2 linked regions of the Homo sapiens genome follow. The protein of the gene in region 2 interacts with the protein of the main gene of each other region in a biochemical or structural test. Each region holds a gene or a part of one and is shown on either strand. Other genes may lie near its edges.

What was found. The genes of interacting proteins can lie anywhere in the genome.
Region 1: the proteins of RLIM (region 2) and CFLAR form a complex in vitro, tested with the Homo sapiens proteins (one study listed by BioGRID).

What each region holds. Positions count from the first base shown.
Region 1 is NC_000002.12:201,168,126-201,175,163, reverse strand, and holds part of CFLAR (CASP8 and FADD-like apoptosis regulator), read right to left. Parts: 3' UTR 1-7,038. UniProt on the Homo sapiens protein: Apoptosis regulator protein which may function as a crucial link between cell survival and cell death pathways in mammalian cells. Acts as an inhibitor of TNFRSF6 mediated apoptosis.
Region 2 is NC_000023.11:74,583,587-74,590,624, forward strand, and holds part of RLIM (E3 ubiquitin-protein ligase RLIM), read right to left. Parts: 3' UTR 1-7,038. UniProt on the Homo sapiens protein: E3 ubiquitin-protein ligase.

The sequences.
Region 1 (7,038 bases), on a different chromosome or scaffold from region 2:
ATGGGCTGCTGACTGGCTATATTTATGGTTGCTTCTTGACTATACGCTAAACAAGAGGTGGCTTATTCATGAGTTTTCCAGGAAAGAAGTGGGGAGGTCTGGACCTTTTAGACCATACAGGGTAACTTCTGAAAGTTGCTATGGCAGTTGTAAACTATCATGGTGCTGTAGAAGTTTCTTTTAGCGTGCTAATGTATTATAATTACCATAGAATGGGCAGCAAAGGTAACCAGAGGTCTCTTCTGTCACCATCATGGTTTTGGCTGGTTTGGGTTGGCCTTTCTACCACATCCTGTCTTATCAGCAGGGTCTTACAGGGTCTTGTGGTCTTGGGAAACCAGTCCTGCCAAACTCCTCTCATTCAGTGTAATCACTATCAAAATTCCAGAGGCCCTTTTTACATAAATTTGCAAGTGAATCCTAACAGTTATATGAAAATTTAGGGAAAGGTAAACCCAATACAGCCCTAACAATTTTGAAAAAGAACAGGCCAGTTGCAGTGGCTCACCCCTCAGCACTTTGGGAGGTGGAGGTGGGAGGATTGTTTGAGGCCAGGAGTTTGAGACCAGCCTGGGCAACATAGCAAGGCCTCATCTCTACAAAAGAAAAAAGAAGAACAACAACAACAACAAAGTTAGAGGACTACATTTCTGGATTCCAAAACTTACTACGAAGTTACAATAATCAAGACAGTGTGGTACTACCATAAGATAGAGCAACAGAATTGAGTCCAGAAATAAACCCTTATAGTTAGTTGATTTGTGATAAGTATAAAATAATTCTATAGGGAAAAAATAGTATTTTCAATAAGTAATGCTAAGACAAGTGAACATTTATGTGCAAAAGAATGAGGCTGGATGCTTATCTCGCACTGCATACACAAAAATAACTCAAAATGGGTCAAAGAGCTAAAATCATAAAACTTTAGAAGAAAACATAGGGGTAACACCTCATAGGCAATTGATTTAGACAATGGTTTTTTAGGTATGACACCAAAAGCATAAGCAATAACATAAAAAACAGAAATCAAGTGAACTTCATCAAAATTTAAAACTTGTACTGTATAGTATCCAGAAAGTGAGAAGACAATCCATGGAATGGGAGAATATATTCACAAAGATTGTACCTGATAAGAAACTAGTATCCAGAATATTAAAAAGAATGCTTACAACTCAACAATAAAAAGACAACCCACCGGGTGTGGTGGCTCACGCCTGTAATCCTAGCATTTTGGGAGGCCGAGGCAGGCAGATCACCTGAGTTCAGGAGTTCAAGACCAGCCTGGCCAACATGGCGAAACCCTGTCTCTACTAAAAATACAAAAATTAGCCAGGCGTGATGGTGGGTGCCTGTAATCCCAGTTACTAGGGAGGCCGAGGCAGGAGAGTCGCTTGAACTCAGGAGGTGGAGGTTGCAGTGAGCCGAGATTGCACCACTGCACTCCAACCTGGGCGACAGAGTGAGATTCCATCTCAGAAAAATAAAATAAAATAACGCAGTTTTAAAATGAGAAAGGACTTGAGGCCAGGCACAGTAGCTAATGTCTGTAATGCCAGCACTTTGGGAAGCCAAGGCAGTCAGATCACCTGAGGCCAGGAGTTCGAGACCAGCCTGGCCAACATGGTGAAACCCTGTCTTTACTAAAAATACAAAAATTGGCTGGGCGCGGTGGCTCACGCCTGTAATCCCAGCACTTTGGGAGGCCAAGGCAGGCGGATCACGAGGTCAGGAGATAGAGACCATCCTGGCTAACACGGTGAAACCCTGTCTCTACTAAAAATACAAAAAATTAGCCGGGCGTGGTGGAGGGCGGCTGTAGTCCCAGATACTTGGGAGGCTGAGGCAGGAGAATGGCATGAACCCAGGAGGCGGAGCTTGCAGTGAGCTGAGATTGCACCACTGCACTCCAGCCTGGGCCACAGAGCGAGACTCCGTCTCAAAAAACAATACAAAAATTAGTTGGGCATGGTGGCGAGCTCCTGTAAACCCAGCTACTCCCAACTACTAGGGAGGCTGAGGCAGGAGAATGGCTTGAACCCAGAAGGCAGAGGTTACAGTGAATCAAGATAACGCCACTGCACTCCACCCTGGGCGACAGAGTGAGACTCCGTCTCAAAAACAAAAAAATAAAAAAAACCTCATACACTGCTGGTGGGAATATAAAATGATGCTACTACTTTGAAAAGCAGTTTGGCAGTTCCTCAAAAGGCTAAACATAGAGTTACTATATGATGAGCACTCTCACTTCTAAGGTATATGCCCAGAAGAACTGAAAACATATATCCATATAAAAATTCATATACGAATATTCATAGCAGCATCATCCATAATAGCAAAAAAGTGGAAACAGTCTAAATTTCGATCAACTGATGAATAAACTAAATGCGGTATATCCACACAATAGGGTATTATTCAGCCATAAAATGTAATGAAGCACTGGTACACTCTATAGCATAGATGAACCTTGAAACATGCTAAGTGAAGGAAGTCAGACACGAAAGGCCACATGTTTATTTTTATAAAATATCTAGAACAGGCAAATCATAGAGACAGAAAATGGATTATTGTTTCTAGAGGCTGGGGGAAGAGGAGGATTAGAGTGGCAGCTCACTGGTATGGAGTTTCTAGGTAGATGGAAATGTTCTGGAATTAGATAGTGGTGATGATTGCACAACTCTGTAAATATACTAAAATCCACTGCATCATTTACTTTAAAGGGGCAAATTTTATGGCTTGTGAATTACATTTCAATAAAAAGAAGATGAGGAAACCTAGGATATGTCACAATCCCATGCCACAAACTACTTACACTTCCAATATAAAAACTATATCAACAATAGTTTACATCACGTTCATTGCTTGCTAAAGTAAGGTCATGAATGTATCAAAATATTTTATAAAAGTTAAAATTTAGGAGATCCATCATTTCTCTTTTCAATCCATCACTGATTCATTCAATATATATTTATGTGTATGCCAGGCTCTTCATCAGGTAAAGTGTTTAGGAGAGATATAAAGATAAAACTGATGAGAATTCTGCACTTGAGCTACAGCATACTTTCCAAGAATTACAGCATGAGATATAAAATGAAAAGAAGGCTTGGAGGAGATTCACACGAAATAGTACTGTTCAGGAGAGGGGGCGATAATTCCAATGGAAGAGATAACTGACTTCATGGAGGATAGAAGGAGATGGTATTTGAACTGCCCTTGAAGTATGGTTATATTTTGGGGATGTGGAGATGTGGGGTAGGGTGATATGCTGGGGTTCCAGATGGTCCAGAAATATACAATCACCAGAACCAAAGATCCAGAGGTAGGAGATATGAGCTGTTCAATTTGGCTGAGCTAACAGTGTTTGGAGTGGGATCTTGAAGAAGCTGAAAATGAAGATACCAACTAGACAGTCAGAGAAAGACTTCCAATGTTTGACTGAACTGCAATTTTATTGTGTATGCATTGAAGAATCTTTTTTTTTTTTTTTGTATTCTCTAAAGATTTTTAAAATATTTTAAGTTCTGGATACAAGTGCAGGATGTGCGGGTTTGTTACATAGGTAAACGTGTCCCATGGTGGTTTGCTGCACCTATCAACCTATCACCTAGGTATTAAGCCCCACATGCATTAGCTAGTTATCCTGATGCTCTCCCCGCTACGGCCCCTGCATCAGGCCCCAGTGTGTGTTGATCTCATCCCTGTGTCCGTGTGTTCTCATTGTTCAGCTTCCGCTTACAAGTGAGAACATGTGGTGTTTGGTTTCCTGCTCCTCTGTTAGTTTGCTGAGGATAATGGCTTCCAGCTTCATCCATGTCCCTGCAAAGGACATGATCTCATTCCTTTTTTAAAAAAAAAAACAAAATTATTTCCATAGGTGTTTGGGGAACAGGTGGTATCTGGTTACATGCGTAAGTAATTAAGTGGTTACTTGTGAGATTCTGGTGCACCCATCACCTGAGCAGTATACACTGAACCCAATTTGTATTCTTTTATCCTTCACCCCCCTCCCACCCTTTCCCCTAAGTCCCCAAAGTCCATTGTATCCTTCTTATGCCTTTGCATCCTCATAGCTTATCTCCCACTTATGAGTGAGAACATACAATGTTTGGTTTTCCATTCCTCAGTTACTTCCTTTAGAGTAATAGTCTCCAGGTTGCTGTGAATGTCATTAATTCATTCCTTTTTATGGCTGAGTAGTGTTTAGGTGAGGTTATTTGTAAGTAATTAATATTGAGTAAATAAGATTCATCCATAGTGGCAAAGCCACATAACTTCTAAGTATCTTAAACTATATCTAAATGGTACCAAAACATGCAGTCAATTCTAAAAGCTCAGCTAATGATATTTCATAATATAGGAAAATATTCACAACATATTTTTGTGTAAAAAAAAGCAGACTTCAAAATGGAATATGCATTATGATTCCAATCATGTAAAAGCTATACATGAACACATACAAAGATTAACAGATATAAACAAATGGAAGAATGAATGGAGAGATAGATGATAGACAGATTGAGTGGTGGTGGAGAATAACAGATTTAAAAAGAAATTGTGCCTTTCTATATTTTCAAAACCATTTAAATAAGTATTACCTTTGGAGTTAGAAAATGATATGTATTTTAAATCCATAATTCAACTACTTATCTATATGATGTCAAACTGGATTAGGCTGAATTATCAGCAAGTGAATAAAACAGTTCCTTCATCCATGGAGAAACATCCATTTATGACATTCTTGGAATTCCTCTTGTTAGAATTCTTTATGAATTTAAAATAGAAACATGGCCAGACTCAAGATTTCAATACAAACATTACTTTTTCACGTTCAGTAATAACCAATTAAAAGAATTAATGAAAAATCTGATTCACTGTATCACCAAAAGCTGTAATGGCTGCACTGCACAGTATTCCATGGTGTATATGTACCACATTTTCTTTATCCAGTCTATCTTTGATGGGCATTTGCTATTGTGTCTTTGCTATTGTGAAGAGTGCTGCAATGAACAAAAATGTGCATGTATCTTTATAATAAAATGGTTTATATTCCTTTGGGTATATACCCAGTAATGGGATTGCTGGGACAAATAGTATTTCTAGTTCTAGATCTTTGAGGAATAGCCACACACACTTCCACAACGGTTGAACTAATTTACATTCCCACCAACAATGTAAAAGTGTTCCTACTTCTCCACAGCCTCGCCAGCATCTGTTGTTTTTTGACTTTTTAATAATCACCATTCTGACCGGCATGAGATGGTATCTCATTGTGGTTCTCCTTTGCATTTCTCTAATGATCAGTAAGGTTGAGCTTTTTTTTATATGTTTGTTGGCCACATAAATGTCTTCTTTTGAGAAGTGTCTGTTCATGTCCTTTGTCCACTTTTTGATGGGGTTGTTTTTTTCCTTGTAAATTTGTTTTAAGTTCCTTGTAGGTTCTGGATATTAGACCTTTGTCAGATGGATAGATTGCAAAAATGTTCTCCCATTCTGTAGGTTGCCTGTTCACTCTAATGATAGTTTCTTTTGCTGTGCAGGAGCTCTTTAGTTTAATTAGATCCCATTTGTAATTTTTGCTTTTGTTGCAATTGCTTTTGATGTTTTTGTCATGAAACCTTTGCTTGTGCCTATGTCTTGAATGGTATTAAATAGATTTTCTTCTAGGGTTTTTATAGTTTTAGGTTTTACATTAAGTCTTTAATCTTGAGTTAATTTTTGTATAAGGTGTAAGGAAGGGGTCAGTTTCAATTTTCTGCATATGGCTAGCCAGTTTTCCCAGCACCATTTATTAAATAGGGAATCTTTTCCCCATTGCTTGTTTTTGTCAGGTTTGTCGATGATCAGATGGCTGTAGATGTGTGGTCTTCTTTCTCTGGTCTCTATTCTGTTCCATTGGTCTATGTGTCTGTTTTTGTACCAGTACCATGCCATTTTGGCTACTGTAGCCTTGCAGTATACTTTGAAGTTGGGTAGTGTGATGCTTCCAGCTTTGTTCTTTTTGCTTATTGTTGTCTTGGTTATACGGGCTCTTTTTTGGTTCCATTTGAATTTTAAAGTAGTTTTTTTCTAATTCTGTGAAGAATGTCAATAGTAGTTTAATGGGAATAGCAATGAACCTATAAATTACTTTGGGTAGTATGGCCATTTTCATGATATTGATTCTTCCTATCCACGAGAATGGAATGTTTTTTCATTTGTGTCCTCTCTTATTTCCTTGAGCAGTGGTTTGTAGTTCTCCTTGAAGAGATCCTTCACATCTTATTAGCTGTATTCCTAGGTATTTTATTCTCTTTCTAGCAACTGTGAATGGGAGTTCATTCATGATTTGGCTCTCTGCTTGTGTATTGTTGGTGTATAGAATGCTTGTGATTTCTGCACATTGATTTTGTATCCTGAGACTTTGCTGAAGTTGCTTATCAGCTTAAGGAACTTTTGGGTGGAGATAATGGGGTTTTCTAGATATAGTATCATGTCATCTGCAAACACAGTTTTACTTCCTCTTTTCCTATTTGAATACCCCTTATTTGTTTCTCTTGCCTGATTTTCTTGGCCAGAACTTCCAATACTATGTTAAATAGGAGTGGTGAGACGGCATCCCTGTCTTGTGCCAGTTTTCAAGGGGAATGCTTCCAGCTTTTGCCCATTCAGTATGATAATGGCTGTGGGTTTGTCATAAATGGTTATTATTTTGAGATATTTTCCATCAATACCTAGTTTATTGAGAGTTTTTAACATGAAGCAACGTTGAATTTTATTGAAGGCCTTTTCTGTATCTATTGAGATAATCATGTGGTTTTTGTCTTTAGTTCTGTTTATGTGATGAATTATGTTTCTTGATTTGCGTATGTTGAACCAGCCTTGCATCCCAGGGATGAAGCCAACATTCCAAACATTTTATTTATTATTTATTTATTTATTTATTTTTGAGACAGAGTCTCGCACTGTCGCCCAGGCTGGAGTGCAGTGGCAAGATCTCAGCTCGCTGCAAGCTCCACCTCCCAGGTTCATGCCGTTCTCTTGCCTCGGCCTCCCAAATAGCAG
Region 2 (7,038 bases):
ATAAAACACCTTGATACCGTTTGCCCTAGGGCTGATTACAAGGTACACTTAAACTGCTAAAATGATAGTTCATGTTATTCATAGTGCTAAGGTGTATCTGGTAATGCCCAGTGCTTTACTGAATTTACAGTATATTACCATTAATCCTCCAAAAAACAAAAAAACAAAAAACAATTTGCGGCCGGGCGTGGTGGCTCACGCCTGTAATACCACCACTGTGGGAGGCCGAGACGGGCAGATCATGGGATCAGGGGTTCAAGACCAGCCTGGCCAACATGGTGAAACCCTGTCTCTACTAAAAATAGAAAAATTAGCTGGGCGTGGTGGCGGGCGCCTGTAATCCCAGCTACTCGGGAGGCTGAGGCAGGAGAATCGTTTGAACCCAGAGGCAGAGGTTGCAGTGAGCCAAGATCGCACCATTGCACTCCAGCCTGGGCGACAGGGCGAGAATCCATCTCAAACAAACAAAAAAATAAACAAAAACCAATTTGGCCTTTTTTTTTCTTGGCAAACCAGCCAAAACTGATGTTTTTCCTAAGAAATCACACCTCATAAGCAATCTAGTCTAGGGCTTGGGATAAATACTAAGAAACAAATTAGAAGTCATATAGTAGTGGGATTAAGAGCACAAGGAAGATGACTGCATCAAAGATGATTGCAAATAATCTGCTACTTACTATGTGACCTGGGCAAATTACCAAACATCTGTATCTCAGCTGCATTACCTATAAAATGGGTGGTATACTTTCACCTCACAGTCACTGTGATGATTAAATAATTTATATAGAATACTTAATACAATGCCTGACAGCAACCAGAAAAGTTTAGCTAATTTAATTATAGTTAGTAATCCATGCAAGGCCTTATAGTTAAATCTTGTCTAAATTCAAAGACCTCAAAGAAACTGGACCCTTGCTTTCTTATTTTTTAAAATGACCATTAAGAGTTCAGTTTATAATCCACCCAGATTTATCGAATCCTTTCTTCTAGGTATCTGGGGGTTTTTTTGAGACAAGGTTTTGCTCTGTAACCCAGGCTGGAGTGCATCAGCATGATCATGGCTCACTGCAGCCTTGACCTCCCGGGCTCAAGTGATTCTACCACCTCAGCCTCCCAAGTAGCTGGGACCACAGCTGTGTACCACCACACCTGGCTAATTTATGTCTGGATCCTTTTCACTGACCTAAGATGCCTGTGCTTTGGCTTCATTGTCTAGAGCACTAACTTTTTGATGGTGGTATTGAGTTTCAAATAATAAAATCATGAATGACACTAAACTTAAAACCTTGGGAAGGTCATGAGTTGAAGAGCTGACTACATCAAAACTATCCTGAGAAACCGAGTTATGATGCCAATGACAGATAGCTCTGCAGGCACCAGAGGAAATGAAACTATAATACAATACACCAGGTGTCACAATGTGACGATTTACTTGAAACAAGGACATCTTAGTGGCTTAAGCAATATGTTTAAGAGATTAAGATAGAAATGGAAGACAGAAGTACAAGCACACGTGCACACCTACAAGTTTTTGTATATATACAGGGCAAGCAAGGGAGTGGTCAGAGCAATGGCGAGAATACAAGAAACAGCAAAGATGCGCCTACTTAAAATGTCATTCACATAAATCTTTCCAGGATTCTTGTATTGGAATATAATCTTTTATTTTACCACTCAACGATTAAGCCATTCAACTACACAACACAGATAAAACGGAAGTTATAACATATAAACCAGTACCTGCCCACACTCATAGCAGTGAGGGGAATAAAAATCAAGGTTGCACTGTAATTCCATGACTCTAAAAATCAAGTCTATTTGACATTGGTTTGAAGCAACAGAACCTTTATAGCAGATTCCCCTTTTTAAAGAAAAACCCAAGGAGAGATGATCAAGCACAAATGATCACTTCATGCATTTTATTGATAGTCTATATTTTAAATCTGCAGTATGACATCTTACATAGGGAAAAAAGCTTCTTCCTAAAAGATAACTATTAATAATCAAACCAGCTTTAATATGATTGACCTTTCAAGGTCTTGTTTTGCTTTAAACAAGTTAACTTTTAGCAGTTGTAAAGCACTGTACAAAAGAAAACTGTGTACATTCTCAAAATTTAATACAGGGCTTCCCAACCAGGAGTCTGCTGGATAGGTATCGGAGAAGGGTGTTATGTTCAGGTTTAAATTGAAAGAAAATGAGAAACCAGATAAAGCAAGCCAACCAAATTAACTTCACTTTGTGCTCCTCTCTGCTTTTTTGAGTCTCTCCCGAAGGTCAGGAAGCCCTGGTATAACAATCACTTTAGTCTTTACAGAACATACATCTATGTGCTTTGTGACCAAAGACATAAAGGCAGCCTTTGTTACTGTTCCCCCTCCAAACCCCTTCAGGTTCTTATAAGCTTCAGAAAGCTTTCCAAGATTGCTGCCCTGTTCTTTGTATGAATCCAAGTAAACAACTATACCAAAGCAGCTCTTCCTGGGAGAAGATAAAACAGGCACAGATACATCACCAGGCCAACTGCGTACCTACTCAACTTGATACCTGATCACATGGCCCTACATCCTTAAAAGCAGCACCAGGGACAAATGGAGCTATCAAGAGGTAAAATCCAAACACTGGACAGTTAAAACACATACAAACCAGTTAAAAGAACATTAGTAATGGGGCACTAAATAGAGTTAAGGCTGGACAGCTGGTTCAACCATACCTTGGTATTGAAATAATTCTGCAAGATGAGGAACTTACAGAGGAACCTTGAAAGAGGCACCATGATATGACAGGGTTCACTTTCACTGCATGTCTTTAAGATATCTACTACTCAGCCCAACTGACCATAAAGCAGCTCGTGGAACTTTAATAAACAAATCCTAATAAAAATAAATAATTTTTAGAATGTTGGAGGGTATGCCTATTTCCTTCAGATCTGATCAAGACATGAGAATTATAAAACCGATACAAACTGTTCTGTGATTATCACTTGACAGTTCTAACACTGTTATACAGCTCAATTCTATGCTGCAGCCTTTAAGATACAAACTGGGGTTACATGAGATCACTCACTTGTTAGAGAAGTATCAGATAAATTTTAGAACTGTTCCAGTTAAGGAAAATAATTCTTAATTTCATAATCCTAAAACTTTTTCTAAAAATTTTTGCAGGGCAGGTACTTAACTCATAGCTGTTTTAGTTGATTAAAAAATCTGATTTAAAAATAAGTAAGGCTGGGCGCAGTGGCTCACGCCTATAATCCCAGCACTTTGGGAGAATGAGGCAGGCAAATTGCCTGAGCCCAGGAGTTCAAGAACAGCCTGGACAACATGGCGAAACCCCATCTCCACAAAAAATTAGCCAGGCAATGTGGTGCATGCCTGTAGTCCCAGCTACTTGGAAGGCTGAGGTGGGAGAATCACCTGAGCCCAGGAAGTCAAGGCTGCAGTGAGCTGTGACCATGCCACTGCACTCCAGCCTGGGTGACAGAGCAAGACCCTGTCTCAAAAAGTAAAAAATAAAATAAAATAAAAATAAATAAGTGACATACTAGTTCCTCGGATCTTTTACTTTTTTCCAAATGAAGTATGCTGTCAATTTACATTTTTCATGTTTTTTCAAAAGCACACAATTTACTAGTTAACTCAATGAATTACAATACTGTTATTGAATATAAACATACTGAAGAATTAAAGGGAAAAAAACACACCTGACACTTTAACATGTGCCTTAACAATCTTGCATACTAAGGTACAGAATACTTCAGAAAGTAACAATTAGCATAGTCTTATAAGACTAGGAGAATAAAAGTGCCCTGCAAACATGGCTTCTATGTACTTAATATGGTAAAACATGTGACAGGGAAGCCTGTAAGGTAAAACTTAAAAAAAAAATCAAATAAGGCAGATTATAATTTTTTTTGTTCGCAAAAGAACAAAGGAGAAAAGGGGAAGAATAAAAACATTCTCCATCTTTAAAAGAAAAAATATTAACAACCATAAGGTGCCACTGTATTTTAGCAAGCTGTAAAAATGGCCTTTTAAGAGGAATTTTGCAATCTTTACCTCCCTATCATTTGGGTATTTTGGGAACTGACCGAAAGTCATGGCTGATGCTTCACCCATTTCATGTCATGGACGCCTGGGAAGCAGGTAGTTAAATACAAAGCATATTATGTGATAACCCTTCATAAATATAATTTGAGACACTGACACTAGGAGAGGATACTTGGCACAGAAAAGACATGTTATGGGGCGGGGGACACATTACTTGAGGCAACACTTACAGCCAATCAGTTTCCTAATCTTAAGGTTTGGATGAATTCCAATCGTTTTTAAAAACTGTGTGTGTACACACACATATTTTATTTCCTGGTGCTAAAGGTCTTATAAACTGTACAATTACCTACATTCCAACACTAATGTGAACACTTTTCTCAATCCCCACCTCCATTAACACCATTAAGGTGTAACTAACATGTTCTTTTCAGAGCAAATATTCCAAATTAACAAGGTGGCTCATCTTCTATAGTGTTGATACAAAGTCAGCAAACTTTTAACTTAACTTGCTCAATTTTGTTTCTAATAGTACTAATAAACCTCAACTTTGGCTGGACATGGTGGCTCACGCCTGTAATCCCAGCATTTTCGGAGGCCGAGGCAGGCACATCACTTGAGGTCAGGAGTTCAAGACCAGCCTGGCCAACACGGTGAAGTCCCCATCTCTACTAAAAATATAAAAACTAGCCAGGTGTGGTGGCATGCGCCTGTAATCCCAGCTACTCGAGAGGCTGAGACAGGAGAATTGCTTGAACCCAGGAGGCAGAGGTTGCAGTGAGCCGAGATCGCTCCATTGCACTTCATCCTGGGCAACCAAGTAAGACTCTGTCTCAAAAAAACAAAACAAAACAAAACAAAACAAAAAAACCTCAACTTTGTCAGCTGCTCAGAGTTAAAACAATTCAAATGTTTCAGACTAGAAGTGAGTTTTTAAAAACATCTGAAATATTCAAGAAAATTTGGGTTTTGGTACTTTTCCTTATGCTCTGAACAATGTGAACTCCCAACATTGTTTATCCTTGTTCCTCTTACTGCATGAAGTTCAAACTAGGTCTTAAAGACAACTTTTCTGTACTTAAGAAAAAGTGCAAAGATAGAAAATGAAATGTAAGGTGTTTTGCAAGAAATGCTCCCTCGAGAATGGTGTTTGGATGTGGGTGGGGGGAAAACGATTTTTGTTCTCCATTGTAATCTGACACCTACGAATGACCTTGTCTTCAATGTCCACAACACTAGTAAGCATGTAATAATCACGGACATCGCAAGATTAAAAATTAAGTAGCAAATTCCACTAAAACACTTGTATTCATTCTATACAATCGAATGGAAATCCGTGAGTGCTACTGAAAAAGGTGTTCACATGCACATGTCCAATATGTGCATTCCACTGAAGGCTAAAAGCTTAAAATTCTATTTCCAGTGTTTATGAATAGCTTCAATATCTACATTCATAGCCAGCATTCTGCTTGAGTTACCTCTTACTTTAATACTTCACAAATGAGTAAGTACGTCTTGGGAGATTAGGAAGGTACCTGTTGTCAATAACTTTCTCTTATGCTTAGAATGTGCTGCAATTGTTTTTAAACTATTTAAAATGAACACCCCTATAATAATGAAACACTTTATGCCAAGAAGAAAATTGATTTGTTTTTAGCCAATCAAGACTACCCTGCAGATCTGAAAACTGTAGATTACATCCTTAGGAAAGGAGAAAAGGAGGCTCACAAATATAAAGGAATCCTGACTTTTACACGGACAAATTTTTAAAAAGATAAAATGTATTACATAAGCGCCATAAACAGTGAAATCTGCTTATATTAAAAAAAATAAGTGAAGCTTTGTTTGGACATTATTTCCTTGCAAGAGCAGTACATATCCTTAGTAAACAACTACCATATTTACAAGTTAATTTCCTTGATACTTAGATAGGATTGAAAGCCAGAAGAAATCATGGAAGAGTGAGCTTTGAAATAATCTTTACAGCTAAGTTGGTAACAGTGAAGGTACCCAGACAATTCCTAAAGCAGACTTGTTTATTTTGTAGAGTATTTGACTACGTCTGGGTAGCTAGCTTGCTTTGATAAAGGCCAAGGACAAGTTCAATCCCTATTTTGGCCTGTTAAAGCTTTTCCCAGAAGAACAAATATCTGCTCCATAGTCATTCTAATCCTAACCCCAGCTAGTCTCAAAAAAGAAATTAGGCAAGAAGACTGGGGTTATCATGAAGTTACTCTTACTACTAAGAAACCAACATAAAGTGCATGTCCATAGATAGCGAGTCAGCAGTCTCATTTTCATATATGGGCAGCACAATTAAAATTTGAATTTCAAATAACCCAACATGACTTTCAACAAAGGATAAAAATCCCTTAATCTTCAACTGGTCTTTAAATTTGAGATGTTAGGACTGTGTTAGAGATAGTAATGAAATATGATCAAGTGTGCACTGGTACCTTAAATGACAAATCTCAAAAACAACACAAATTCGAGACTTTCCTATTAACACACACATGTGTACCAACTGCAATTCATATGCTAAAAGTGGTTTTATAGTCTCTTTCCTCCATTTTTTCATTTTTGAGGAGCAGACTTGTAAATTTAACTTGTGCTAGGTAGTAGTGGTTTGTTTTTCTTAAACCAAAACTCTGCCAAACTTGCTGATCTTCTGCTTCATCTACTCAGGTAGAATACCAGGTCAAGCTGCTGCTGTGGCTGCTCTCACCATATGAAACCAGTTTGTGTCTGCATTATTACTGTCTTCAGGAAAACTTTAAATTCTTCAGTTTTCTTTACTCCTCCCATATTTCACTTCCTGCCTAAATCCAAGTTAAATTATACAATTTCCACTGGTCTTCAACACGGTTTAATTCTGCACTGTCCTTTCCTTTGCATGTCACAGTAGCTGTTCACACATTAAATATTATAGATATGTTCTGCTCTTGACATCTACACACTTACAAAAGCAGCTTTGTACTTTGTTTGGTGT